Regions from separate parts of the Homo sapiens genome. Here region 2 is linked to region 1. Evidence: fine-mapped expression QTL. Tissue or cell type: whole blood. Region 1 holds a variant in brackets; the other region holds the start of a gene. All regions are shown on one strand. Distances are between the middles of the regions. Region 1 has its middle 29 kb from the start of PGAP1. Region 2 holds the start of PGAP1 (post-GPI attachment to proteins inositol deacylase 1).

Region 1 (15,486 bases):
TGGAAGCTTGTCTTGAGATGAAGCGTCTGTCATCTTTATGTATTCCTGAGTATCTATGAAGATTACAGCAACCCTGATGACTCAAGATGGACAGGCAGTATAAAGGAGAAATAAGCCTTGTTGTTGTAAGCAGCAGAGATTATCAGGTTTTTAATGTAGCATAATTACCTTACCCTGACAGAAAATATACATAGATATTTGTGAGTATTTGTATGTAAATGAAACTGTATGTATATATGTATGTGTATACAGAGATACACATATATAAAATTCATCATCGGTATGAAGGTAGGTTCATACTCTATCATTCTTTTTTGACTTAATATTTCACTACAAAAATTTTCCTATCTTACCAATTTTTGAAAATATGATTTTAATGGCTGTATATTATTTCATTTCATGGACTATTCCATTTCATGGCTGTATATCATTCCATTTCATGGACTTACCATAATGTATTTATCTCCTTTGGGCAGACATTCAGATTGTTTCCAAGTTTGACCCATGTACATTTTCAGTAAACATCTTTGAGGACAAATATTTGTCCACCGCTCTGACTCAGGATAAATTTCATACTTACGATAAATACCAAGAAATGAGATGACTGTTAATTCTAGAGCTGACTCTTTTCTCACCCTCTTGGCTTCTTATAGCTTCCATGATTGCCTCATCTCCATGGGGCTCCTCTATGTCAACAAGGTAAAATAGTTCAGCTGCCAACCCACAGGTACAGAGGCACTGAATCTCTGGCAGTTTTAATAGATGGGATAAAAATCCTATCCAAAGACAAGGTTGAGATTTTCTTCACTTAGGAATTTTCATTAAAAAACTAAGAGTAAAACAAAACAATACTTACAAAATGGAACTTTCTGCTGCATATAACTTCTAGCCAAAGAGTACCCTTCAGGGTTCCCAGTCCTGAGGTCTTTTACTCACCTCCTCCCCAACTGGGTTAGATGTGATAGTTGCCTGGTCCCTCCCAGAACCAGATTTCTGGCATTGTCTGCAGCCCACTCTCACATATGTGCCAATCCTACCCTGTTGCTCTTCAGGAGCTCTGCATGAACCTGAAAGTAGCACTTTCTCACTCTATAACTGTTGGTTTCCTGTTCTGTCTTTCCACTAAGTTACACTGTGATCTTCTTGAAGGCAGAGACTGTATTTCACTTCCACAACCATAATGATCAGCATGGTACCCAGAACTTATCTGACTTAGATAAGTGTATACATGGATGCAAGCATGAACTAATGTGTGGACTCATACATATGTGAATGCATGAATCAATGACTAGTCAAAGGGAGATATGAGGAGTATATTTTTCCATCTCCAGCATCTAAAAGGGACTGTCTTCCCACTTTCAGGATAGTTAATTTTTACATATAAATGAGCAGTTTATTTGTAAGGTATGGGTGTTTATAAGATTGGTGTTCATAACTTGCAGAATTCATGTACCTTTGAGGAACATTCTGAAAACCAAACAAGTATTTCTTTTTTCTTCCCTTAGGATTAAGTGGCACTTATGAAAAGGAAAGAGAAAATAAAGGAAAATAAGAGAATGAGGCAAGATCTTTATCACCATGTCTTTCTGAAGTGAGAGACACATTCCTTTATTTAACTAGTCAGTGCCTTGATACAAAGTGTGAGGAGCGTGTAGGGAAACAGGCTCTCTTAGTCATCATTGGTGGGAGTGTAAATTGGTGCCAACATTTTGGAGGTAATTTTGGGAGTATTTATCAAAATTCTAAATGCATATACCATCTGGCCAAGCAATTCAACCCCTGGGGGTTTATGTCCCAGAATGCTTCCATAATGCATAAATATGAATGTATAAGGATGTTAGTTGCAGCACCATCTCTAATAATCAAAATTTGAAAATAATCCAGATGCCCATCAAAAGGGGATTGGATAAATAATGTTAATCAATATAGTGGGATCTATCCAATTTAAATTATTTAGTGATAAAAGCTAAATTGCACATAACATGAACCCACATTCTAGAAAGAAGATGTAAATGCATCAGGATGTAAGACAAGAAGGATATATTGCAAATGTAGTGGTGGCTACCTGTGGGGAGTAGGGATTGGGGTAGGAGTAGAAGAGACTTTTTTTTTTTTTTTTTGAGATCAAGTCTCATTCTGTCACCTATGCTGGAGTGCAATGGCACAATCTTGGCTCACTGCAACCTCCGCCTCCAGGGATCAAGTGATTCTCCTACCTCAGCCTCCCTAGCAACTGGGATTTTAGGTGCCTGCCACCATGCCTGGCTAATGTTTGTATTTTTAGTAGAGATGGGATTTCGCCATGTTGGCCAGGCTGGCCTCGAATTCCTGACTTTAGGTGATCCACCCACCTCGGCCTCCCAAAATGCTGGAGTTACAGGCGTGAGCCACCACACATGGCTGGAAGAGACCTTTTTGATCTTATGTATTTACTTCTGTATTTAAAAAAATTATCTAAAACAAATATGCATTGCCTTTTAAATAAATATTTTAAAAATAAAAACAATAATTAATTGCTAATTTGTCAAGCCCTGGGCTGAGAATTGACCTATTCTTGGGCATTAGAAATCTTTAGTGATCGTAAACATTTCCTTTGAGGTCATTTAAATGATGGGAAGAACAAAACTGAGCAAAATACTAGAAATATCAAAATTTCAGCCATCTGATCCACATTCAAGTCCTGTTTTAGAAATATCATAGCCCTATGTTGAACTCTTTTTTACTATAGAATAGGAACTTTTGAATGAGACCATTTAAAATTATCCAAGACTCCAATTCTGGAAGTTTTTTTTTTTTTTTTTTCAGCTTTCTGCCTCACCTACGTGTCAAGTCAGACTTGGTGTTGGTTGGATTTATTTTAATTTATCCTCAGCCTTCCAAGAGCAAGTCCCTCAGTAACAGTTTCTGAATGGCCTGTTATCTGTTATGTTTTGTTTGCACATGGAAGTTGTCACGTGTTCTCTGTGACAACATGATTTCTCAATATTCAAGGGCTGAATCCTTTTCCTGACCACATTTTCTACTTGGCTTGGGATCTTCTAGAGGTTACCCATACCAAGCTCTTTTAAACTTACATAGGAATTAGTTGCTATTTTGAGCCAGCACCACACCAAGCTCTAGACAACTTCAAGCTCCCTATTATTCATATCTACTTCTAAATAATTAAAGCCATGGACAACAATATCTGGCTACATCAGCCAGTGCTTTGCGCAGGCTGAAGAATGGAGAAAGTTCACTGAACTGCTGCTATGCACTTTATTGCCATAGCTCTGGGCAAAACCTTCAAGTGGTTGCATTTTGTATGCAGGATTGCTGGCCAAACTTTTGAATTATGCTACACAATGTCACAGGCCATTTCAGCTGGCGTCCAGACACTCCTAGTATAAAAACAACCACCAGCACCCACTGTACATTTTCTCTCATTGACATTGCTGGGTGCTTTTGTTTGGTAATAGCTTGGGGCAGGGAAGAGGGGTGATGAGGATAATGGAGACGATAACATGACACTGAGGCCATTGGGTGGATTGTGAGCCCCTAGAACTACAGAATATTTTTTTTCATGAACAGGACTTGCTTTGGGGCCCAGATGTCAAAGAGTGACACAGAGTTGGAGAGGGCCATTTTTTCCCACCTCCCTGTGGAATCCAGTATTGTTCTGGCACATGTGATGGGGACTTTGGAGACATTGGGAGACAGTATTCTCAGCACATTCTTGGTCAAGTGTTTCGCAGTGGACTTCCTCAGTGAAGGCAGTGATAAAAATTTCTTCCAGCTGCTTGCCAGGACTTCATGTTGACAGATGAGAACTGGAGCAGACAAGAAAAAATACTAGGGATGCTCCAAGAGGGCCAGGACAGAGATTTCTGTAGGACTCTGTTGTATCCTCTCACATAGTATGCACTCAGTACCTATTAATTAAGTGGGTGGATGATTCTAGTAGTGATTAAAGCTGATAGATTGGTTTGTGAATATGAGGAAAGCATATGTTCAGGGACTCCCAGAAATAACCAGGACCATTTTGAAGAAAAATAGCTACTGTTTAAAGAAAATAAAATTTGAATCCCATTATAATTTATACAATGTGTGACCTAAATTTGTTTCTACAGGTAAAGTGTGTGACCACATTTGTTTCTACAGGTAAAGATAGGTGACAATTGGATTAGAAATATTTTCTAAACCACAATTGGTAAAATAACTTGTAAGAAATCAATGATCTACTTGGCTTTTTTTTTTTTGGCAGGAGTATAAACATCATTTATAAAATTAAGTCATATTCATCGTGGTCTTGACTAGATTTTTCCATAGGATCTATAACTCCATACCTAAATTATCCTGTTTCTAAAAATGTAGTGATAAGTTTGGCTCTGTGTCCACACCCAAATCTCATGTTGAGTTGTAATCCCCAGTGTTACGAGAGGGACTTGGTGGGAAGTGATTGGATCATGGGGGTGGATTTCCCCCATGCTGGTCTCATGATAGTGAGTTCTCACGAGATCTGATGGTTTAAAAGTGTGTGGCACTTCCCCCTTTGCTCCTTCTCTCTCCTGCCACCATGTGAGGAAGATGCTTGCTTCTCCTTTACCTTCCAACATGATTGTAAGTTTCCTGAGGCCTCCTAGTCATGCTTCCTGTTAAGCCTGCAGAACTGTGAGTCAATTAAACCTCTTTTCTTCATAAATTACCCAGTCTCAGGTAGTTCTTTATAGCAGTGTGAGAACAGACTAATACATGCAGTAAATATGCTTAAGGAACAAAAATTCTATGGATACGGTATAATTTACTGAATGTTTTTGTCCTCTAGCTGGATTAGTTGAAACTGAAGCCAAATGTGTGACTACTTAAGGCTGTGAATGCTTAAAGACTTTGAATAGCCATTAGAGTCTGTTCAACTGTAACTAATAAGCTTCCTTCTAGTTCTTAGACTTGGTTTATCACAGAAGTTCCTGTTTGCATTTTAAAATTCATTTCTAGGTAAGGTCTTGGCTAAGGAGAAGAAGGAAGGAAAGGAAGGTAGATTCTGTTTGGATTTTAAGGTCAGGCAGTCAGTTTGGCAGCTGGGCTTATATAACCTTTAACTTCTCCTAATTAGAAATTTTCAAAGTACCTGGCTCTCCCCAGGATGCCAATTTGCTAGAGAATCTGCTTGCAGCCTCCATGTAATCAATTTGAATCTTTAACCAACAAAAATAACAAAAGCTTCAGCTCCATGAAACAAGCTATTCTCCATTGTTTGACTCATTGTGAGGCTGGGGTTAACCTCACAATTTTAAACTCATTCATCTTAATGTACACCCTATTCAATTACCCCCATGTCCTACAAATAGGTCAAACTTTCATAAACCTTCAGAGAGAAGCCAGTCATAGAGGAGAAGTGTTTTCCTCTCACTGGTGTTTGAAAGTAACTCTTTTAACATCATTTCCAGATAAAGGTTTTAAAAATACGGCCAGGCAGGGTGGCTCAGGCCTGTAATCCCAGGGCTTTGGGAGGCCAAGGCGAGAGGATTGTTCAAGGCAAGGAATTTGACACCAGCCTGGGCTGGTCTCTACAAAAAAATTAAACAATTAGCCAGCATGGTGGCGCACGCCTGTAGTCCTAGCTACTTGGCAGGCTGAGGCAGGAAGATCACTTAAGTCCAGGAGTTTGAGGTTACAGTGAGCTGTGATCACTCCAGCCCGGGTAACAATGAGACTCTGTCTCTAAATACATATATATAGAGTCTCTAAATATATATATATTTTTTATATATAAATATATTGATTGACCTCTCATGTCTTTATATATAAATATATATTATATAATATATAAAGACATGAGAGGTCAATCAATATATATATTTATATATAAATATATATATATATTTAGAGACAAATATGTGTAAGATGTACATTGGTTCACTCCAGAAAGGTAGGAGAGATCACAGGTAGATAAGAGACAATGGGTTGCATTTATATATATATACAAAGTTTGTTATTCTTTTACTATGTGAGAATGACAATTAAGTTGTTAAAATTAACAATCCATTGAATATCGGTTGTGATAAAGAAATCAAGTATCTTTTTAACAAGAAAGTGAAAAGCAAAGGGAAATTTCAGCTTGTATTAAAAAACTTAAGAGCTCAGTTTATTTCAATATAGAATTTCAGGATAATGTGCTAGAGTGTGAATGTACCCATGATTCTATAACTTTCCATGCTTGTCTTCATCTTTTGTAACTTTATCCCCTTCCATAGTTCCAATTACTATTTATAGCCTTTCTAAAGCTGAGTTCAGTAGCTTTCCTTCCAACTTCTTTCTTTACTTTAAAAAAAAAAAAAAAAAGTGGTCAGGTGAGGTGGCTCACACCTTTAATCCCAACACTTTGGGAGGCCGAGGCAGGTGGATCACCTGAGGTCAGGAGTACAAGAGCAGCCTGTCCAACATGGTGAAACCCCATCTCTACTAAAAATACAAAAATTAGCTGGGCATGGTGGCACATACCTGTAATCCCAGCTACTCAGGAGGCTGAGGCAGGAGAATCGCTTGAACCCAGGAGGCAGAGGTTGCAGGGAGCCGAGATCGCGCCATTGTACTACAGCCTGGGCGACAGAGCAAAACTCTGTCTCAAACAGCTTTAATAAGGCACAATTCACGTAACATTACTATTCACATACCATACCGTTCACCTTTGTTTTAAAGTTTACAATTCAGTGGTTTTTAGTATATTCACAGGACTGGCAACTATCACCACAATCTAATTTTAGAACATTTTCACCACTCCTGTGAACCCAGAAAGTATCTGAGACAGGTCTCAATCAATTTAGAAAGTTTATTTTGCCAGGTTTAAGGACGTGCCCATGATAAAGCCTCTGGAGGTCCTGATGATGACACTGCCGTTGGAAAATTATGACTGAGACAGTGAAAGACACCTAACCGGGGAGACTGATTTGAGTAATAATAAAGCTCCGATCCCCTGCACAGCTGGCTCTGCATGAATTACCCTTTCTCTATTGCAATTCCCCTGTCTTGATAAATCGGCTCTGGCCAGGCAGCAGGCAAGGTGAACCCACTGGGCAGTTACAATGACATGTGCCCAAGGGGGTCAGGGCACAGCTTGGTTTTATACACGTTAGGGAGATATAAGAGATCAATCAATATGTGTAAGATGTACATTGGTTCACTCCAGAAAGGCAGGAGGGATCAGAGGTAAATAAGAGACAAAGAGTTGCATTCTTTTGAGTCTCTGATTAGCCTTTCACTGAATACACAATTTACACGTGAGAGGTGGGTAGAAGAATAGTCACTTATGCCTTAGTCTGGCTCAGTGATTTGTACATAAACAATAAGGCAGAGGAAGCAATCAGATATGCATTTGTCTCAGGTGAGCAGGGGAATGACTGTGACATCAGTCCTTTATCCAGCACCTGTGAAGATTAGCTACCAATTTACGTTGCCAAGGTAAAATACAGCATAACTGTTTTAGGGTAAAAATCTTGAGTCTCACAAGGAATTTTCTTGTGGGCAAAGTGTGAGGGAGGTATGTATTATGTTGGTGCAAAAGTAATTGTGGTTTTTGCCATTTAAACATAGGAAAAACCACAACTGCTTTCGCACCAACCTAATAGCTTTTTTATCTTTGTAGCTATCTAATTTAGGAATAAAACAGGAGCAGGTTTGCCTGATGCAGTCTCAGCTTGACTTTTCCCTTTGGCTGAGTGATTTATTTTCTTTCATAACCCAAAAAGAGACTCCATATCCATCAGCAGTCACTCCCCGTTTTTTACTCCTCTACCTCAATCCTAGGCAATCACAAATCTATTTTCTGTAGCTATGGAGTGCCTAGTCTGAAAATTTTATATGAATGGAATCGTACAACATGTGATCTTTTGTGACTGGGTTCTTTCACTTAGCATAATGTATTCAAGATTTATTCATGTTGTAGCATGTATCAGTACTTCCTTTTAGTTACTGCACAATGTTCCATTGTATGTCTATACCACATTTATTTACTTACTAGTTGATGGACATTTGGATTGTTTCCTCTTTGTGCATATACTAGAGTCATCTTTGTCCTTTATTTTCCTCTATTCTTCAACATATAATCGGTAGGCATACCTATTGCTTCTGTCATTGTAATGTCTTTCTCATATGTCTCTCCTGTCCATCACTACTGCTATAGCTTAGTTTTGTGATATCACCATTTCTCACTTTGTATTACTCCAAACAGCTTTCTATATGTTCTTTCCTCGCCCAATCTTGTCTCCTTCCCTAATCCATCCTGAACACTACAGTTTTAGTGTACTTTGTAGTCGCTTAAAAACACCAAATAGATTTCCGTATCCTATGGTGTTTCTAAAATGCAGACCCTATGGATGAGGGATGGGTTTGAGATGGGGGTGGCAGGCGAAGACTTTTAAAATATTTTTATTTCTGGGCCTCCACATTCTGTAGAACTGGGGTAGAACTGAGAAATCATTATTTTAAAAAGATAGATTCACAGGGGAATTCTATCAAACCATAAAAGATGAGATCATTGGAATGCTATTTTATCCAGTTGAGAGTACTGGAAAAGTAAGAAAACTTCTAAAAATCTTTTAAGAAAACCATAAACTAATCTCACTTATGAGGCATAAAAAATCTTAAAAATTAGCAAAGAGGACCAATGGCATATTGACATAGGAGTTAAAAAGAATCTATTTAGGCAGATAGTGAAGTAAGAAAGTCCTCGGTAAGGTTTTCTTTTTTATAAAAAGCAGCCCCCAAATCCTTTCTTTTCCTAACAAAAAGCAGCCTGAAAAATCAAGCTGCAAGCATAGATAAGCAAGCTAAAAGCTTGCATAGGTAAATACCAGCAGCTGTGCCAATAGAAGAAAAAGGCTACCTGGGGGCCAAGCATGTTCAATATGGAGGCTCCATCTTCCCCTTTCTTTGTCAACGATATGTACAGTAAGGAACAGACAACATGGCGCCAGCCATGTGGAGAGTCCATCTGCATAATAAAAGATTAGGGTGGTATGGCCAGCTTTCTCATGTGCTATGCAAACGTCACACCTAGTCCAACCAATCTCTCTCGGGCCCTGTGTAAATCAGACACCACATCCTCAAGCTCCTCTGTGAAACCTCATGCATTTCACCACGAAACTGGAAGATCCAGTTAGGGGTCTGCAAGAGAGAGATCTAGTCTCTTTTCTCTTTCTTTTGCCTATTAAAATTCTGCTCTTAAACTCACTTCTTGTGTGTTCACGTCCTCAATTCCCTTGGCATGAGATAATGAACCTCAGGTATTTACCCCAGAAAATGACACTTCTTCAGTATTTAATAATAATATATAAGTATTATTATAAAATGTATTCCGAGAATACAAGAGTGGTTCCTTAGTAGAGCATCAATTAATACAATTAATCATATTAATAAAGCTAAGGAAAAAAATCAGATTGCTGCTGCCATAAATGCCAAAAAGGTATTTGGCAAACAAAATTCAACATGCATTTATGTTAAAAATACTCAATTAATAGAAATTGATGGCTATTTCAGCCAAAGCCAGCTTCCCACCTAATGGAAAATTTTTTTTTTTTTTTTTTTTTTT[C/TC]TGAGATGGAGTCTTGCTCTGTTGCCCAGGCTGGGAACGATCTTGGCTCACTGCAACCTCTGCCTCCCGGGTTCAAGTGATTCTCCTGTCTCAGCCTCCTGAGTAGCTGGGATTACAGGCACGCACCATCACGCCCAGCTAATTTTTGTGTTTTTAGTAGAGATGGGGTTTTGCCACGTTGGCCAGGCTAATCTCAAACTCCTGACCTCAGGTGATCCACCTGCCTTGGCCTCCCAAAGTGCTGGCATTACAGGCATGAGCCACTGCACCTGGCTGGAAAAACATTATTAAAAGTAGTAAGAAGACAAAGATGACCACCATGTCCATTACTATTAAGCCTTGGAAACAGGGATTAGCCAATACAATTATATGAGAAAGTTTTTTTTTTTTTTTTTTTTTTTGAGACAAGCTCTTGCTTTGTCACCCAAGCTGGAGAGCAGTGGTGCAATCATGGCTCACTGCCCTGGCTCAGGTGATCCTCCCACGTCAGCCTCCCACGTAGCTGGGACATCAGTTGTACCATCAAGCCTGACTATTTTTGTTGTTGTTGTTGTTGTAGATGAGGTTTTGCCATGTTGCCCTGGCTGGGAGAAAGCATTTAATTACACAAGAATCAGAAGGAAAATAAAAAACTATCTCTTTCCAGATGATGTGATTACATATCTAGGAAACAAAAAATAGGCCTGGCTCAGTGGCCCACATTTCTTGTAATCCTAGCACTTTGGGAGATGAGGTGGGATCACTTGAGCCCAGGAGTTCAAGACCAGCCAGATCAATATAGGGAGACCCTGTTTCTACAAAAAAATTTAAAAATTAGCTTGCCTGTTGTCTGAGCTACTCAGGAGGCTGAGGTGGGAGGATTACTTGAGCTCTGGAGGTTGAGGCTGCAGTGAGCAGTGATTGCATCACAGCACTCCAGCCTGGGTGATAGAGCAAGACCTTGTCTCAAAAGAGAGAAAAAAGAAAACAAAAGTAAATGGAGAAATTAATATAAATAATAAGAGAATTTGGTAAACAGGTAGCATACAAAATTAATATAAATAAGTCAATAGTCTTATATAAATACATAATAAGCAGACAGAAGAAATAATGCTTGATACCTATAAGCACTTCTGAGAGTTTTTGTAACATATTCTACAGCTGAGTAGGACTAGGTGGTTAGATATAGAAGTGGCAAAAACAGCTTTGACTTTTCCTTTTGTAACCTCCTGTATGAATGATTAACAATAAGTTGATATGCTTAAAACAAAACTAATTAGTAATAGAAGAAAGAATAATAATTTATTTTAGTTTTCCAGAGGATTGTGATGGATGGGCTAAGATGTAAGGCATCCACATGAATCCTGGAAGGTCAGAAGCCTCCAGACCTTCACCTCTTCCCACACTCCACCCCATATTCCTTATGCCAGAAAAGCCCCGCCTAGTTGCAGTTCCCTGGCACAGCAGGTTGTTTCATTGCTCTGTGCCTATGCTTTTTGTAGGAACTACAGAAGGAGGTCTCCTTTCAAGGGTCACACTCACTGAGGCCTCTTGAGTGCCCTCCTCTCTCCAACCCTCATCCCCAGCTCCGGGTAGAATTTACTACTTCCTTCTTTGTATCACTCCATGAACCTTGCTCATTTCCACATCTGCTTCATCCCTCAAGACTGTCTGACTCCTCTCCAAGCATACTCCTTGCCCTAATGTATCTGGTCAGTAAATTGAGTGAGTGAGAAAAGAAAATATTTGGCTTAATTACTTGATGGGTGGCTGTCTCAATTTCTGGGATAAGAATCTTTCAAATATCCCTACTCTGGTTTTCCCAGTCAAAATATTTGTCACATATCATGATGGTGAATTAGTTTTGAAACATACTATAAAAGAAATATTCATACTTCTTTGAAGTAAAAAATGACTGTGAAAAATATTTCCTTTTCAAGTTGTATCATTTGCAACCAAGAGGAGAGAAGGTACCATTGTATGTAATTAAACAGATTTTCAACTTTTTAATAGATTGTCTCTATAAGTTAAAGATACTTATGTGCACAATAGTCATTGCCCCCTCTAATCTAGTAGTTCAGAACAAAGCTAGAGCTGTAGGACCCATGAGTGCTGTGTCCTCCAATGCCTAGGGGTACTGTTAGTGAACTACCTTAAGAAACCCGAAACAGAAATTTGCGATGCAATCTGAATTCCAAATGACTTGCAAGCAGATTATACTCTAAAAATTCATTTGTAAATTGAGGACCTTGAACTCTTCAAATCAAGAGGAAAAGGCAAATGAAATAAAACATATCTCTGATGACATATAATTAGAAAAATAACTTCTGAAAGTAGTTGTCAGGATAGAAGAGAGACTTTTCACTGTTCACACTTTTTACCTTTCGAAATTTGTACCATGTGATAATTATTCCTCCAAAAAAGTTTATTTTATTTAAAAAATGTTAAAAGTGTTAAATTATAGATTTAGATCGTTTCTCTAGTGTGAAAGTGAACATATATTGTTTCTTTAACTTCTGGTCTCTTTCTCCTGCTGTTGAACTTGAACCTGCTTACTGTAAAAATTACTCTACATGCTGGCTTCCCCTTTCTGTAAAAATAAGTACATCCTGGTGGGAGTAACTTGTTTTGTCTTAATCATAAAATGAGTATCTTTCACAGTAATATTTATTCCCTACTTCTGGGGTTTTCTTCTGTGTGAAGGGACATCAGTTAGTATAACTCTCCTGACCCTCTGCATCCACACACTCTACCCTAGGGAAGGGAGTGACCTACCTGCTGAATTTGGGAGCCCCATGCTTCCTCCTCTCCTCCTCTTGGGACCAGTTACCCACAGGAAGCACCCTTGTCTCTAAGCCAGTGTTATAGGACCAGACCTCACACAGATCGCCAGCAGTGGTCCACACCTGAGTGGGAATGTCAGTCTAATTCTGGGATGTAGTATTTTTCCCAGACATAAGTGGCATTTTCCAATAGCTGCTTTACAAGTAATCAAAATGATATGTTGATCTCCACCTGTCTTACCCCAAGCCTATCTCTTCAAACCTCAAGGAAAAATGGAGGTAGTATGTATTTGTCCCAGTGGATATCACCTGCTATGCCTTTCTTCAGTGGTGCTCTGAAAAAAAAAACAGGAAAAAAAATATTCAAGTAAGATGCATTGAAAGCATATTGGTAATTCAGAAAAATATATTAAAATGAGGAAAATCTAATTTCAGACTGAATTTCCTGTGCTTTATTCCTTCATTTCTCCCTATTTTTGTCTCCTCCTACTATTTCCTGGCTTGCGTTACATTCTTATTTCCTTAATCAGTTGTTCACTCACTACTCCTTCATTCATCCATTTAACAAACATTTAGTTAACTCCTATGTGCCAAATGAGAACATAGCATTCCAAGACGACTAAAACAGTCTGGTGGAAGAGATAGATAAATATATTGCTAGTTAAAATGCAATCAGATAAGTACAGTGGCAAAGAAGTGCACAAAGAGTTATGGAGGCATTGAAATGCGACATCTAATCTAGCCAGGGGGAGCCAGAGAAGGTTTCTGGAAGATGTAGAACCTGAGCAGCATCTTAAAAGATGAGTGGGAGGCCGGGCATGGTGGCTCATGCCTGTAATCCCAGCACTTTTGGAGGCCAAGGTGGGCAGATCATCTGGGGTCAGGAGTTCGAGACCAGCCTGGCCAACATGGTGAAACCCCAACTGTACTAAAAATACAAAAATTAGCCGGGCATGGTGACATGCACCTGTAATTCCAGCTACTGGGGAGGCTGAGGCAGGAGAATTGCTTGAACCTGGGAGGCAGAGGTTGCAGTGAGGCAAGATTGTGCCATTTCACTCCAGCCTGGGAGACAAGAGCGAAACTCTGTCTCAAAAAAAAAAAAAAAAAAAAAAAAAGAGTGGGAAAAATAAGTTCTGATAGTTCTGATGAATAATTAAACATTTTTTCATTGCCACTTTTATCTCCAAGGGGGTGAATTTGCACAAATGATTTTTAAAATTTTTTTATTGTAAATTGACAATTTATAATTGTATGAACTTATGAGGTCCAAAGTGATGTTATGATTTATTAATACAATGTGAAATAATTAAATCAAGGTAGTTAACATATCCATCACCTCAAATATTTAACTTTTTTTTTGTGGTGAGACATTTGAAATTTACTCTCTTAGCAATTTTGAGATGGAAAGCAAGCAACCTGTGCGTTGTGAGTATGCTTTTCAAATGTGATGCCTGGCTCTGTCATGCTGGTTGTCGCAGATCCTTTGGTGCACCCTTGGCCTACCTCTGGTTGCAGCTGCAGCTGCAGCTGTGGTGGACAGTTCCATGTATGCTGGTAGGATCTATTTCCTGTACCATTGTATGCATAATGCCTTTTCTGCCTCTAGGTTTCTTTGGAAGCCTTGTACCTAGTCCAAGTGCAAGCGCAGCCCAGAAGTGTCAGTGAGTTAATACCCCTGGGAGCAACTCTCGACCAGTCGGGGCTAAAGTCAGTCAGTGCACAGTCTCCTGTTCTTCAACATGAATTCAGGAGACATTCTTTGTGCTTCTCCGAGGTTTTGGTGGAATTGAGCCCCTACTGTCTACAGAAATGACCTAAATAATACATAAGTTATCGACTTTTCTCCTTCCCTATATCAGTCTGCTTTACTGTCTCACAATCCTGCTCCCTGTGATCAGCCCAGAAGTTCACTACCTGCACCCAAGCCCTCATCACAGGTTCAAAAAATCCAAAGATTTTAATTATTCAGAAATAAAGAGCACTGGGGCCACCCAGTTCATTGGGGAGTGAATTCTTTTATAGAACTGAGCTCTTATCTCAATCATATCAGCTAAAGTATCTCAATAATTAACAATCTCTGTTGTTTTTTTGCTTTCAAAAGATATTTTGTTGTGAAATATTTCATATCTACAGAAGAGAAAATACAGTGTAAATGAGTAGTGTAAAGGATAAAACAAGGCCAGGTGTGGTGGCTCATGCCTGTAATCCCAGGACTTTAGGAGTCTGAGGCTGGTGGATTGCTTGAGCCCAAGAGTTTAAGACCAGCCTGGGTAACATAATGAGACCCCGCCTCTACAAAAAATTTCAAAAATTAGCTGGATGTGGTGGCATGTGCCTGTAGTCCCAGCTACTTGGAGGCTAAGGTGGAAGGATTGCTTGAGCCTAGGAGGTCAAGGCTGCAGTGAGCTGTGATTGTACCACCTGGGCAACAGAGCAGGACCCTGTGTCAAAAAAAAAAAAAAAAAAAAAAAGAATAAAATGAACAACCATTCAGCTTATAAAATAAAGCATAGCCAGTGCCTTAGAAACCCCTTATATGCCCACACCCCTTCCGCCCTCACAGGTGTAACCCCAACCAGAATTTTGTGTTCCTTGTTCCCTTATTTTTTATCATAGTATTAGCATATGTATGTATCACTAAACAATATGTCATTTAGTTTTGCCTGTTTTTTATATTTTACATAAATTATTTATATTCTTATTTAACTTGCTTTCTCTTTTCTTTCTCAAGGTTGTTTTTCAGATTTCTCTATGGTGATACATTTAAGAGTAATTCATTCATTTTCACCATGGTACCGTGTATAAATATACTATTCTTTATGTAGCCATTCTACTGTTGATGAACATTTAGGTTTTTTCTGTTTTTTTTTTTTTTTTGTAGTTACAAACAATGTTACTATGAACATCCTTGTACAGTGTCTCCTGAGTACATGTACAAGAGCTTCCATTATATGGAGTAGAAATACTGGGTTATGGTCTGTGCATGTTCAACTTTTTCATGTACTACCAAACCGCTGTACCAATTTACATTCCCACTGGAACTACATGACAGTTTCCATTGTTACACATCTTTTCCAACATTTGGTATTGTCTGAGTTCTTAATTTCTGTTAATATGGTAGAGGTTTAATGGTGTTTCATTGTGATTTTATGTTACATT
Region 2 (15,486 bases), 27 kb after region 1:
ACCTCCCATGTAGCTGGGATTACAGGTACCTGCCACCATGCTCAGGTAATTTTTTTATTTTTAGTAGAGACAGGGTTTTACCATGTTGGCCAAGCTGGTCTCAAACTCCTGACCTCAGGTGATCTGCCCACCTTGGCCTCCCAAAGTGCTGGGATTACAAGTGTGAGCCACTGCGCTTGGCCTCATTTTAGAAGTCTTTATCCTTTACTTATAAATTCCCACTGCTTTCTTATATTATTCCCAAGAAATATAAAATCTGAGATTCCATAATGTAAACATTTGACAGTTTAGAGATGAATACATATTAGATTATTCAGTACATATACATAGTGCTTTATATTGACAAGGTAGTCTTCATCCTTGTGAAGGAGTTTAGCTCTCTGCAAGCAAACATGCATTCAACCCAAGAGATTAATTTTTTTGGCTGGTTTTAACAGTGGGAGACAGCATAAACAGAATTAAAAATCTGAATTGCAAGGCTGACGTTATATTGCCTTTCATTATATAGCAATGGAGACTGAACTGGTGAAAAAAGGGTAATCAGGTCGAAAATTCTTATTTTGTTTTTGATGATCTACTCTCTGTTTCCTTGGAAACAGGGCTGGCAGCCACAGAGTTGCTAGCATTATATTTTCTTATTTTCTTTTTAAGCTTTGAAGCATCAAAGGAAAGGTGAGGTTTTATTATTGAACTCTGTATTCTACTCTGTAGAATCTGGCTTATTTTCAAATAAGTTAAAAACAAATCTTTATTGAATGCCTATTATATATAAGGCACTAGGAGGTATAACTAACAAGTTTGAGAAAGAGCTTTAAAGCAATTGAGTGGAATAAATGTAAGCTTCTAAGAGTCAATCTACTACATATTTGGGATTTTTTTTAAAGGAAAAGAATTAAATAAAGCTTAATTTAAAAACCTATAGTGTGAGGGAAGGGCACTGAGATCAGCATAGTTTAGTGAAATTAGTTTTAGAAAACAACTAGATTTCCATACCAGACTGCGTGATTCCTTATTCCTGTGTATAAAATCTAGGTAATATGAAGGTGGTTACTCTGTGTTAAGAAAATAGTCTTTGCCTCCAGTAAATAAAATGAGTAAATGTAAAAGGTTTTCTAAGAAGCTAATATTCTAATGATTTTACTAAATATTTCAGTTGAGGGATGATTGCCAAATGATTTCAATATGGTCTTTTCCTTTATGAAAGGTTACATTAACTAAAGTTTAAATAGCTTTGATTCATTTAAAATATAAGTCATAAACTTTCAGAAATCATTTGTCAAGTACCTTCATTTTACATATGAAAAAAATGAGGCCTAGAGAAATAGAGGAACTTGCCCCAAATCATACCTGCTTGGCAGAACTGAAAGTTCTAGAACTCGTATCTCCTCATCCAGTACTCATTATATCTTCACTGAGGTTTCAATTTATAAATATTATAATTTCATATAATTCTTAGGAACTCATCTATTGTTTAAAAATGAGATACACACTATAAGAAATAAAAACATATGAACATGTATCCAAATAAAAAACTGCTAAACATGGCCTTAACACCATATGTAAGTTTTGAGTGAACTATGAAGCTGCCTGCTTTTCAGAAAGTACCAGAAACAAACATTACCTGAAGAATGATCAAAAAGCCTGTCAGTACCTTGAATTGTGGAAGACCACCCTCTCAATTCTTTCAGCTGCAGCCATCTATCCATTAACTCATTCACTCAATATTCCAAGAAGTACTCAGAGTCCCGATTACAACATTGTGTACATAACTAACTCTTCTCCAGGGTCCCTTTCCCCCTAAACAGTTAAATATTTCCTCTTTTTCATATGTCATATTGAAAACTACAGAATGTCAATAAAAATCTTTTAAATGACCAGAGATGAAAGGCAGTTTTTCCACACAAAAAAAATAGCAATCTGACTGTGAATAGACTTTTTATCAGCAACAACAGATGTCAGAAAATAATAGAAAACTATCTTCAAAGTACTGAGGGAAATGAACCATCTATCCAGAATTTTATACGCAACTAAATTATCACAGAAGGGTGAAATAATAACATTTTCAGATGTACATATTTTAGGAGAGTTTACCCATAAACCCTTCTTGAAAGAACTACCAAAGATCTAATTAAGCAAAAGCAAAAATGAACTATGCATGGAGGAATAAAATATAAGAAGCAATGGATATTACAATGCAAATGCTATAACCAATTTGTAGGCTTTCTCTCCTCACTCTCCAAGTGTAAGAAAGGTGCCAAAAGTGATATGTAACTGGTTATTCTCCCAGTAAATCAGGAAATTCTCTTCTCAAATGCTGAATACAAAATCATAATAAGTTAAACATTATGATCTATACATTTTAAGATATTTTAATGTATCATATAATGACATATATTTTAAAACTTTTAATATGATATAACATGTTATATGTTTGTAGGAGGGGTGCAGTGGCTCAAGTCTGTACTCCCAGCATTTTGGGAGGCTGAAGCAGGCAGAACACTTGAGCTCAGGAGTTCAAGACCAGCCTGGGCAACATGGCGAAACCCTGTCTCTACAAAACAAAAACAAAAACAAAAAATCAGCCAGGTGTGGTGGTGCATGCCTATAGTCCCAGCTACTCAGGAGGCTGAGATGAGAGAATCACCTGAGCCCAGGAGGTCGAGACTGCAGTGAGCCATGACCATGCTGTTACACTCCAGCCTAGGTGACAGAGTGAGAACCTGTCTCAAAACAAACAAACAAACAAACAAACCCAAACACAACTGTAAACATGTCTGAACGAAATTTCAATTTATTTGATATAGTGATTGCATTAGTAATAGTGATAAAATAGTTTCGATTAAAACTTTATTGAAACAATTTTGGAAAGTAGAGAAAAAATTAAAAGAATGCTGAAATGATCATTCATAATCTCATTACCAAGGGGTAAATAGTGTTAACATTTTTTCACATTCCCTGAAGACACTTTTCTATGCATTTTGTATAGTTGAGAATAACTATATATACAATTTTGTTTCCTAAATGTTTCCCTTACAGTCCTACATTTTTTGTATGACAGGGATGATTATCCCCGAGGGATTACCCCTGATTATCCCCATTGTACAAAATTCCTTTCTTCTTATTGTCCTTTTGAATAGGTAGTCTGTATTCCTCAGCCTACTACCTATAAGACACTTGGGCTGTATCAACTTTGAAAACTTTTCTTTGATTTTTAATGCATCTTTATTCTCTGGCACTGAAAAATCTGAATTCCTAACAATAGTTTTATCGTAAGTATTTGTTATAGTTAAATTTATTGTTTCAATTTTCAATTATAGAATTGCTTTTAAATTATTTTATTTTCTACTGGCTACTGCACTTTTATGGTTCAAAGTCAAAAGATATATAGAGAGGTGACAGTCCATGTTCTGCTGCTGTACTACAGGCTTGGTAATTAATTTATAAAGAATAGGTTTATTTGATTTTGGAGGCTAGGAAGTCCAAGAGCTGGCATCTGGAGAGGGTCATCCTATGGGTGGAAGATGGAAGGCAGAAGCGAGTACACAAGACAGAGAGAGGTACCAGGGGCCAAACTTGCTTTATAATAACCCACTCACACAATAACTAACCTGCTCCTTTGATAGTAACATTAATCCATCCATGAATGATCTGCCTTCATGACCCAAATCACATCTTATTAAGCCCCACCCTCCTAATACTATTGCATTGGGGATTAAGTTTTTAACACATGCACTTTATGACACATTCAAACCATAACACACACACACACACACACACACACACACACACACAAATCCATAGATAAGTTTTGTTTCTACTCCTGTCCCCTTCACCTCATTTCCTCTGCCTCTAGGTAACACTTACTTTCATTTTCCTTCCAGTATTTCTCTTTCTCACACAAAAGACAACATACATATATACTGTTCTGCACCTTGTTCTTTCCCTTAATGATATAATCTTGGGAACCTTTCCATTTTAGCTGACTGACCTGTTCTTCATTAGTTAACCAAATATTCTTTATAGTTCTTTATAATGAAGAATATAAAAAACTCCTTTTCTTTTATTCTTCTACCTGGACTAAATACACAGTTCTTGTTGGTCTGAATTAGAGACTCTATGCCATGCAGTCCAGCTGGACTTTGATGTAAGCTGAATCTTCCTGAACAATTAGCTCTTAATACTTCCCATTTCGGTAGCTTCCACTTACCTATTGTATAAAACTCATATTCTTTTTTCTACTCTGTTTACTGCAGTTTTGGCTCCTATTTACCTTTCTAGTTCTATTTACTCTAAATCTTTATTTAATAGTCTTTGCTATGTGAGTCCTGGTTCAAAAGAATCACCTAGATCAATGAGAGATATCCCACCTTCCAACCTCCAAAGCAGGATTTGGATCTAAATTGACAAGAGGAGTTATAACCAGTAGTGACTAGCTAAAAGGTTGGTTAAATTTGGAGTTGGGAGTGGCCATGAGGGAACTGTGTACACCCTGAAGTCGGCATGTGTACTAACTTGTCAGCTTATTCTGGATTCCCAAGTTCCTTTTTACCTTAAAAAAAAAAATCCCCATTTTAACTGGAGTTAGTTTGTGTTCTTGCAACCAAAAGAATCCTGACTAGAGTTCACGCTCTGAGGGGCCACTAAAGGATTTTTGCTGGAAAGTAGAATGATGACTGGGAATAAAATCATGGGATTAATAAAATGTAAGGGATAAGTAAAAAAAGTAAGTCACATGAGATGGAGACTGAGAGGCTACATCAACAGGAGAAAACCAGTGGAAAATGATGTTACAGAAGACAATGGAGGGCATTGTTTTAAGAAAGAAGTGGCAAATGTAGTAGAAGGATCAAGTAAGACTGAAAAGTGTAAACTGGATTTGGTAATTAGGTCAATGGTTACCTTTGCAAGAAAAGTTTCATGGGAGTGGGAGGGGGGCAAAAATTACAGTGTAGCTGAGACATGAAGGGGAGATGAGGAATTAGACATAAGTATTGATCACATCTTTAGGAATCCTGACTGAGATGAGAAGAGCTACAGGTGAGAGCCACGAGGAAGATTTTTGAAAAAAAACAACAACACATATTTATATGCTTTGGGGAGGGAGGATAGAAAGGGAGAGATTGATAGAGCCCTTAACCTGATAGAACTAACTTCCTGAAAAGAAAGGAGCATGAGATGGGAACATAAAACATAGCTAGAGAGATGTGCTTTTTATGTCCTCTAAGGATAGCAAAGTACCATGGTAATGCTTACTATATGCCAGTCATTGTGCCAAACACTTCAGATGTATTAACTGAATTAGGACTGGGTGAAGATAATGAACTTAGGAATGAGAAGCTGAAGCAATGTGCATCTGAAAATCAAAATTATCTCTGTAATATGAAGATAAGGTTATGTACTAAAAACCTACTAAAAGAGAAGGAAGAAGAAATGTAGGGAGCTTAAAAAGTGGCAGGGAACTTAAAAAGTGGTGGTCTGAAATATAGAAGAGGAAGGTGGTGACCAGAAACATATATAAGTATTTTTTGAGACAGAGTCTCATTCTGTTTGTTGCCCAGGCTGGAGTGAAGTGGTGAGATCTCGGCTCACTGCAACCTCTGCCTCCCAGGTTCAAGCAATTCTCGTGCCTCAGCCTCCCCAGTAGTTGGGATTACAGGCGTGCGCCACCACGCCTGGCTAATTTTTGTATTTTTAGTAGAGATGGGGTTTCACCATATTGGCCAGGCTGGTCTCGAACTCCTGAGCTCAGTCAATCTGCCCTCCTCGGCCTCCCAAAGTGCTAGGATTACAGGCGTGAGCCCTGTGCCTGGCCAAGTATTTTTGAAGAGTTAATTCAAATGACTGTGTCATTTTCTCTAGCAGTAGTCAGATACAGTAGTGTCAGAGCTCAGAGCCAGATTATATTGTCCCAAGGTTGGAAGTTTGTAAGTAGAGTGGGATAGAAAGACAAGCGGTCAAGACAGTTGACAGCTCTGGCAGAGGGTGGTTGAAGTGATGCTCAGTAGGGTTAGGTTAGATATAAAAGTAAAGCTAGGAGTGGATAATGATGGATAGGAGAAAAGACAGTAAAAAATTAGGATAGAAAGATTACAAACATGAAGAATCCATTGACTCTCTATCCCACTCCTTTCTGAGTGAACAGTCAATGCAGCTAGTTGCCACAACTCATGAAGGCCACCAAAAGAGGAAGCTCTGTCATCTTGGAGTTCAGGGATTTCTCCATAGAACAGAGTCCTCAGGCAGTACAGGTCCGTGCTATTCAAAGTGTAGTCCACTGACCAGTATCATTGGCATCACCCAGTAGTTTGTCAGAAATGCAGAATTTTGGGTCCCACCCCAGAACTGTTAAATCAGAATCTTCTTTTTTTTATTTTTATTTTTTTGATAGAGTCTCGCTCTATTGCCCAGGCTGGAGTGCAGTGGTGGGATCTCAGCTCACTGCAACCTCCGCCTCCTGGGTTCAAGTGATTCTCCTGTCTCAGCCTCCCAAGTAGCTGGGACTATAGGTGTGCACCACCATGCCCAGCTAATTCTTTGTATTTTTAGTAGAGACGGGGTTTCACCATGCTGGCTAGGATGGTCTCAAACTCCTGACCTCGTGATCCGCCCACCTTGGCCTCCCCAAGTGCAGGGATTATAAGCATGAGCTACTGTGCCCGGCCCAGAATCTGCTTTTTAACAAAATCTCCAAGTGATTCACATGCACATTAACTTTAAGAAGCACTGAGATAGAGATGAGGGAGTATGGATTCACCCTGGGTTTATTTGTCATAATACTACTCCTACCATGCTAGGAGAAATAAAGAGGAGACGTTCTGCCTTTGATGTTCTTTAGCACCCAGACTCAATGTATTCCCCCCTTTTTATTTATAACTTAAAGCCTTCCCCAAATGATTTGTAATCCTCTGCACTCACTGGTAATTGCATCCCAAACCCCACATGCATTCTCTTTTATGGTCAACAATGTCAAAACCCTATAGTATATATTCCTCTTTATCACATTTATCTCTTAACATCTTGCGATCAAAATGGGTTCTTCTTGATAATCCAGTCATGTTGGTGTAATTCTACAAATTTAACACATTCTATACCTATTAATAGAATATAACAGACATGACATTCCCAAGTGAAATCACCACTTCATAAAGAATTTCAGGCTGGGTGCTGTGGTTCACACCTGTAATCCCAGCACTTTGGGAGGCCGAAACAGGTGGATCACTTGAGGACAGAAGTTTGAGACCAGCCTGGCCAACATAGCAAAATGCCTTCTCTACTAAAAATACAAAAAGGTAAGCCGGGCACAGTGGCTCATGCCTGTAGTCCCAGTACTTTGGGAGGATGAGGCGGGTGGATCAAGAGGTCAGGAGTTCGAGATCAGCTTGTCCAACATGGTGAAACCCCGTCTCTACTAAAAATAAAAAATTAGCCGGGCATGATGGTGTGTGCCTGTAATCCCAGCTACTCGGGAGGCTGAGGCAGGAGAATTGCTTGAACCAGGGAGGTGGAGGGTGCAGTGAGCCGAGATCGCGCCACTGCACTCCAGTCTGGGCAACAGAGCAAGACTCCGTCTCAAAAAAAAAAAAAAAAAAAAAAAAATTAGCCAGGTGTGGTGGTCACACCTATAATCCCAGCTACTTGGAGGCTGAGACACCAGGATCACTTGAATCCGGGAAGCGGAGGCTGCAGTGAGTCAATATCGCGCCACTGCACTCCAGCCTGGGCGACAGAGCAAGACTCCGTTTCAAAAAAAAAAAAAAAAAAATTAGCCAGGTGTGGTGGTCACACCTATAATCCCAGCTACTTGGAGGCCGAGGCACCAGGATCACTTGAACCCGGGAAGCGGAGGCTGCAGTGAGTCGATATCGCGCCACTGCACTCCAGCCTGGGCGACAGAGCAAGACTCAGTCTCAAAACAAACAAAAACGACACGTCTCATACAGGACTTACTTCAATGACATATTACTTAATTGCCCTCCTGATCAGTACCACCTACAGCTCCCCTGTTATCCTGGTCTTTCCAGACTTATCTCCCTACAAAAAAGGAGACTGCTTCCGCATTTTCCCATTTCTGTCTTTCTCCGTCAATACTCCACATTCCGTAGCTAGCTGTGTTTGTTTAGACTTGCAACTGTTTCTGTGCAGGGTAAAGACTATCTTGATTTTCAGGATCACTCCACTTCTTCTTCATAGTTTCGTAATCTGAACATCAGGGTGTTGTACAAGATAAACTATAAGCTTCCTTTTGGTTTTAAAATTCTTTGATTTTATGTATTGTAGCCAAACTTCCTCTGCACAGAAAATATACCAGAAAATCAGCCCAAGTTCAATGAAATTCATTTAGTGCCAAAGACCATTCTAAGAATCCTGTGGTTACTACACACACACGCACACACACACCGTCTACTGTTGAGTCAGCTTTAAAGAGTGATGTCTTTTTCCTAACATTCTAGTGTTTTGAAGCTGCTACAAGTGATTGATTTCGAGCTTTTTTTAAAAACTCCTCCTTTGTACAAAACAGAACCGAAATTCTTCAAAACGAATTAAGTCATTTGCGAGTTTGAATGGAAGCTGGACGAAATTGCCTCCTCCAGTTAACGTGGAACCCATTCCCCAAGAGATGGAGGTTCTGGAGAGCAAGGCGAGTCAGCGTCAAACTGATTACGCAGATACCTGTTGGGGACGTCAGTGCTAATAGATATTTTGGTAACATATTTTAAGGACTAACGATGCTTTTTGTGATTCAGGCTTTCATCTGATACCAAGAGCAGAATCTCGTCGGCTTGCGGGTGTTTTTTTTTTTTTTTTTTTTTTTTTTTTTAATGAGCCGGTGCTTTTAAGCGCTGTTACCTACTGGGCCCAAGTAGGCGGTAGAAGAGGGAAAATAAAGCCATTTGTTCCCTCTTCAAGCTAACTGCTCCAGAGAGCTGTGAGTGTGCTCTACTACCGTTGGGAAAACCGAAATTGCGGAGGCCTGAGTCTTTTCAAAATTGAACGGGAAGCGTTTTTAAACTGCCGCAGGGAGAGGCGTTTGCGAGGTGACAGCTGATGACCCCTGGGCTTTTAAGTCCTCCTCCCCTCTCTCGGTCCGCTCTCGGTCCTTAATCGCCTCTGGACTCTGGGCTCTAGTCCCCTCCCCAGATTCACCCATCTGACACCCGCCTCCTGCCCAATCCCCCGGCTCGTCTCCAGGGCTCCCGCGCTCCGCCCATCCCCCTCTGGATGCTTCCTCTCTCTCTCTTCTTTCCCTCCCGCCAGCCACTCCTCGCGTCTTTCTCTCCCCACTTCCCTTCTTTCCCCTCACCCTCCAGCCCAGCCCACCCTGCTTTCTCCCTCTTTCTCTTTCCCGTAGATCCGCGCTCGCGCTGCAACACCTACTCCTCCCTCGGCTCTGGGAGTCGCCAGGCCAGAGGCGCCGCGGACCTGGTGCGCGCAGGCGCACTGCGCGGCTGGCGAACGGGCAGGCCGGGCATCAGCGCAGGCGCGCGCGGCTGGGGCTCGGCTCCGGGGGTGGCGGTCGGACAGTGTCTAGCACGCTCAGTCCGGGCTTGGGGCCCCGCGGCGGAGAAGGAGGTAGAGGGGGCGGCGGCGGCGGCGGCGGTGGTGGCGGCACCATGTTTCTTCACTCAGTTAATCTCTGGAACCTGGCGTTTTATGTCTTCATGGTCTTTCTGGCAACCCTGGGGCTGTGGGATGTCTTCTTCGGCTTCGAGGAGAATAAGTGCAGTATGAGCTACATGTTTGAGTACCCGGAGTATCAGGTAAGGTTCTGCCCTCTCCTCAGCCGGGCGCTCCAAGACTCTGGCCCCTGGTGCCTTTTTCCTTCTGTGGGTTCGTCCTGCCTTGGCTCTCTGCGCCTCTCGGGCCCCCTGTCCCGTCCTCGCCTCTGTTTTCTCCGCCCGGGGAGACTCTGCATCCCCCTTCTGCCCCCCTCACCTCCCCTTTGTGTCCCTTCTTCACGGTGGGGTGTTTGTTAGACGATTTCCCGAGAGCATCCTCGTGGTCGTCCTCGTAGTTACTCCGCTGTCCCTCCGCCTCCTCCCCAGCCCCAAATCCTGGGCACAAGCTCTTCTGACTGGCCGGGCCCAGCCCCCCTCATGCCCAGAGAGGCAGCCTCAACCCTTCTCCCTAAACCGAAGCTCCATCCCTCTCGCGTTCTTGCCTTAACCCGTGCCCCAGGACCTTCCTTTGCTTCCCACGCGCCTAAATTCCCCTCGCGCCCGGTGATCTGCTCGTCAGATTTCGCATTTCTAGAAAGGGACCGAGCGTCTGCAGAGTGTATATTGGCTAGATAGTTCCCAAGGCTGTTTTTAGAGACTCCAGGGTTTTGCCTATGGGTAAACTGGCGAGTCATTGAATTGGAAACTAGATCCCCTCTTGGAAAGATGTTGCAGATCCTCTTATTTTGCAGGTTAAGGGGCCGTGCGTGTGTGGGCTTGCCTGTGTGTGTGCATACCTGTGTTTATGCATGTCTCTCAGCAGCCGAGCCTCTTAATAGTTGCATACAAAATCTATTTCATGGTGCTATTTTTGTTTTCTCGCTGGGTTCGGAGTTTAAGAGAGAGCCAACCCTTCTCTCTCCACCCCTACCGCTTCCATGCCATTTTGAATGTTTTCAATCAATGGCTTCGTTAGTTCGGCATAGTAGGATCTAGAATTTCATTCATGACTAGCTGTAAAAAGAGGCGCAGACAAATTACACAACTGTCCTAAGAGAATTTTTCCGAATGATTCTTTTATTTCTAAGTGCATCTCTTAATTATGGACTACCTATTGTAATAATTCCCTACCATAAAATGTATATGCACTATAACATATATTGATAAAATACATTTTTAGTATACTCTTAAAATCACAGCAGTTTTTTTTTTAGGGTGAAGGATGCAAGTCCTGATTGCTTCTTTGTACAAGTCATTATGGAGGAAGCCTGTTACTTGATTACGCTGCTATTATTTTGATCTTAAGACTACTTAAGGTTTAAATTGCTGAAGAGCATTCTTTCCCATGGGAAAAATTCTAGTAAATTTAGATTTCATTTGTGTTTAGATCCTTACCTTGGTTTTGCATTTATGATGATAAGAGAGTGGAAACATTTGGTAGGGATGCTATCGAAGGAGAAGATTTTGACATGTTACTGTCGTCTCTGTTCATTTCTAAGCAAACCTTTTTAGTTTAGTATTTTAAAAAACTGAAAATAGAGCTATTATAATTCCCTCCTTATTTTTGGTTTAATAATTAGGAAACTCCCAATAGATTGAAGTAGGTCACTTTAGTTTTGTACCGCATTGAAGAGTTTGGTTAAAATCATTTTGTGACAGTACAGTACTAATTCCCATTTATTTTTAGATTTCCTACAATTATTGAAGCTATTTTAATATTCACAGAAGTAGAAATTGTTCTCTTTAGCGTTGGGAACAAAGCATATGGATCTCACAGACGCATTTCCTGCCTCATAAATTGACTGGAAAAACAGAAAATTAGTGTAGCTAATGGTAAAGAGCTCTTTGGGTTTTTATTGTTGTTGAGTAGTCTAGGTTTAGTTATTTTGGTTTAAGTTGCTTTTTTGGGGTTTTACACTTCTATTAATAATTTGCTAATACAGTAATAATCACAGTGGCAGAAGTTTTTGATTTTTAGCAGGTTTTTATGATGTAAAAAGCTGTGTTAATTCATGATAGTATTTATATTGTATTCTTAAGTCTTTTTGTTTTGCATACCAGGTCATGTTATCTTACAAATACAATTAAAACCAGCCTATAGAAATGAGTCATTTTGAACATAGTGAGATTTCTGGATAAATGAGGCCATTCTGTTGAGAACCAAATGGCTTTCATGAATAAAAATGTTTTAAAGATATTTTACATATTGCTTACTTTTAATTATATTTTATAGTCAGCTCTCTAATTGTTCACAGGTTGATACCCAGATGTGAGATGTCCTAGTCATTGGGTTTTCTTCTTTCTTTTGATGCCTTTCTTTTTTTTTACTGCTCATTTGCATCTTCTTTAGTTAGCCAGCAGAAATAGAAAGGTGGTTGAAACACATTCAGTTTTATTATCCATTTTTTTAAAAGATGGGGCATAAATTTGAAACTCTTTGCAAAAATGAAGTTTTGAATTTAAAATTGTTTGATTATCTCTATTCATCTTCTACCTCTGGTTTTCCCAGATTCACTTATTCAGAGTTAATTGAACATCTCACGAACCCATATCTCAAGCCTACTAGGCAAAATATACTTTATCCTTTAAAGCTTCTTGCCCTATTACGACAGCAAGGCAAAACTTTTATTTGGTAGCAAATGGTTTTAGGCAAATTGCAGAATTTTAGAAGAAACGTCTGAGTTGTTTCTCTCATACAGTGATTTGTCTGGCTATCTTCGTATGTGTAACCTAACGGTTGCTCTCTGAAAGGAAATGTTGGCGTGCGTCTATAGTCGCAGGTACTCAGGAGGCTGAGGCTGGAGAATCGCTTGAACCAGGGAGGCGGAGGTTGCAGTGAGCCAAGATTGTGCCATTTCACTCCAGGCGGGGCGACAGTGAGACTCTGTCTCAAAAAAAAAAAAAAGAAAGAAAAAAAGAAAATATGAGTCATATATTTTGTTATTAAGTGTGTTATTTATTTAGAAAGTCATTTATTGAATGACTAGTCTTTGCCAGGTATATCTAGCTACTTGGTGTAGGTGAAAGGGAATTAGAACTAAATTATACCTTGTGTCTTTATGTCTTGATAAATACAATGGGGGAAATGGGCATGTAATGTATAGTTACAATATAATGTACTGAGTTTTATAATTTCACAATAAGAGAGTATGTACAGAGCTTTTCATATAAGGGAGAGCATCCAAGTTTGTCTTGGGTGTTCAAAGGCTTTAGAGAAGATGCAAAGTGAACTGGGACATGGAGGGTGTATGAAGTACTGAAAGAACATTGCAGGCATAAATAGTATATGTGAAGGTGGTAATGCGCTGGGACACATTGCATGAACAGTATTTATAATATATTATCATTTATGTTAAAACTAAAAAATAATCGATAAACATATTTGCTTGTATATATGTAAAATATCTCTAGAAGCACACACAAACTGATAACAGGTTGCCTTTTAGGGTCAACTGGATGGCTGAAGGACCATGGGTAGGAGAGAACCTTTTCAATGTATATCCTTTTGAATCTTGAATTCAAAAACATATTAAAAATACATTTTAAAGCATGTCATGTGTAAGTTATAAGAAGGTAGGTAAGGGCGGGATGAGGTGGCTCACACCTGTAATCCTAGCACTTTGGGAGGCCAAGGCGGGCAGATCACTTGAGCCCAGGAGTTCAAGACCAGCCTGGATAACATGGCGAAACCCTGTCTCTGCTAAAAAAAAAATTCAAAAAATTAGCCAAGTGTGATGGCATGTGCTGCCTGTAGTCCCAGCTACTCAGGAGACTGAGGTAGGAGGATCACTTGAGCCCGGGAAGTCGAAGCTACAGTGAGCTGAGATTGTGCCACTGCACTGCAGCCTGAGCAACAAGAGTGGGACCCTGTCTCAAAAAAAAAAAAAAAAAAAAAAAAAGTAGGTAAGAATAATTAGAGCCAGATTTTAAAGGATGTCTCTCTCTTAAGCTTTGTTGTGTGTGTGTGTGTGTGTGTGTGTGTGTGTGTGTGTGTCTGTGTGTGTGTGTGTTAGCAGTATGAACTATGGATTATAGAAGGGAGACGAAGGCAAGGATAGAGACAAGTCTGAAAAATTCAGTTGTCCTTAAGGCCTTTTTTTTTTTTTTAATGGAGCCCCTATAACTATTCTTATGGGGGATGGTGAGCAAAGGCCTTACTGAGACCTCTTTGTGAGAACTTAAAAACTATGTGAAGTTAAAAACTATGTGTATTCATCTAGATCAAAATCTTTTTTCTTTTTGGTTAGTTATGGAAATAAAACTTTATTTTTCAGTTTAAGTTTACAATTAAGTAATATCATAAAATAGATATTTTAGTTTCTTAAATCAGCATTTTTCTATTACCTGGGAGTTTATTAGAATTTTTACCTTTTGAGTTTATGTAGAGATGAGAAGAACCTGAACTAAGGCAGAGTCAAGGAAGGAGGACAGCAGAGGCAGGATTGTGGAGATAATATTTAAATACAAAGGTAATTGATCTTAATATGGTAGAGGGGTTGCTCATTTAAAATAAACTACATAGAATAAAAAATTTATATTGGAGTCCTGCTCCTGTAAGTATTTTCCTTTTATATCCCTTGACCGTCTTCTGTTTTCTTATCAGCATCCTATTTGTATGCCTATGCTTTTTCTGTCAATGTGGTCAATTACCTCTCCTGGGTCTTTGCTATTCCCTTTCAACTTGAACTCTGCCTGGAAATGGAGTTTTGCCATTTGCCTACAACTCCCACCATTCTTGCCTCCTCTCTTATTTTTTTGTTCTAACTTATTTGCCCATCTCCATACTTTTTGAAAAATTCTGTATATATTCATATTTTAAAAAATATTCTTTCTCACTATAAAATTGCTTTCATAATAGTATTTTATGAAGTATATAAAATATTTTTTGCTTGCTTTTCTGTCTCAAGAAAATTAAATATTTCTTTTTAGATATATTTGATAGTTTCCTGTTCTTCTGAGTTAATTTTCGACTTGTCCAAACTCTGTTTAGCTACTGTACTAAAAGAATAATGGTGTACTAAATTGGGAGGAAATAGGAAACTATTTCTTTGTTCTCTTATGTTTTCTTTTTATTTAATTTGTACCTAAAGAAGTAAACTATCACATCATTTTCATTTTTGATTGTATTCTGTGCACAATCAGTATTGGGACTAATTTGAATTGAAGTACATATACCAAATATAAAACGAATAGTGGGGTTAGTATTTCTGTATTTTGAGTATTTGGGGAGATAACTAAGATTGCTAGTATCTTAATAAGCTTACAGTCTCTGCAGATGTTTCTGTGGTGTTATTGGCATAAATTGTTTACAAAGGGATATTTAGGAAGGTGCACAAATGATCAGAATTTTGTTGTTTTGTGTGTGTGTGTTTTTTTTTTTTTTAGAACAACGAGGGTTTTCATTAGTCATTAGCAACATTTACAGGTTTTGAAATTCACTCCATAGTTAAATTCTTTTATCAAGCACATGCCACATGTACAGCACTGCTAGATCTATGTATACCTAAATAGACATTACCGTCCAATGTAATTGGTTTCACTCTTAATGGTTTCTCTCCTTTAAAATAAAAAAAGAAAAGGAGCAAAAGGGTGTATGTATACTTTACTACCACAGATGTCTACCTTTGAGGATGACATTAAGAGATAATTTATACTAAGCTGAAAAAAATGTAGGTGAACTACTGACTCAGTAGTTAGGTGAGCTGCTGTATTATTGGTATACAATAATATGAAGTGCAGGGTAGTTTAAAGTTTGCCAGCAAATCATGCACCTGGCCCATGAAAACTGAAATAGATACTAATTCACTGGAATGTTTATGGTAAGAAGAGT

The links.
Region 2: PGAP1 starts here. The variant in region 1 is fine-mapped to the expression of PGAP1 in whole blood (INTERVAL, PIP 0.99).

The regions. Positions count from the first base shown.
Region 1 is chr2:196,947,688-196,963,173 of GRCh38, reverse strand. No RefSeq gene overlaps it. Among named protein-coding and RNA genes, the nearest start is that of PGAP1, 29 kb to the right of the region's middle. RefSeq lists a silencer at 1,040-1,149. The variant C/TC (reference allele first, on the strand shown) is at 9,563.
Region 2 is chr2:196,920,742-196,936,227 of GRCh38, reverse strand. PGAP1 (post-GPI attachment to proteins inositol deacylase 1) reads left to right here and starts at 9,521. Exons shown (of 27, transcript NM_024989.4): 1 at 9,521-9,758. The coding sequence starts at 9,612. RefSeq lists a silencer at 9,323-9,572.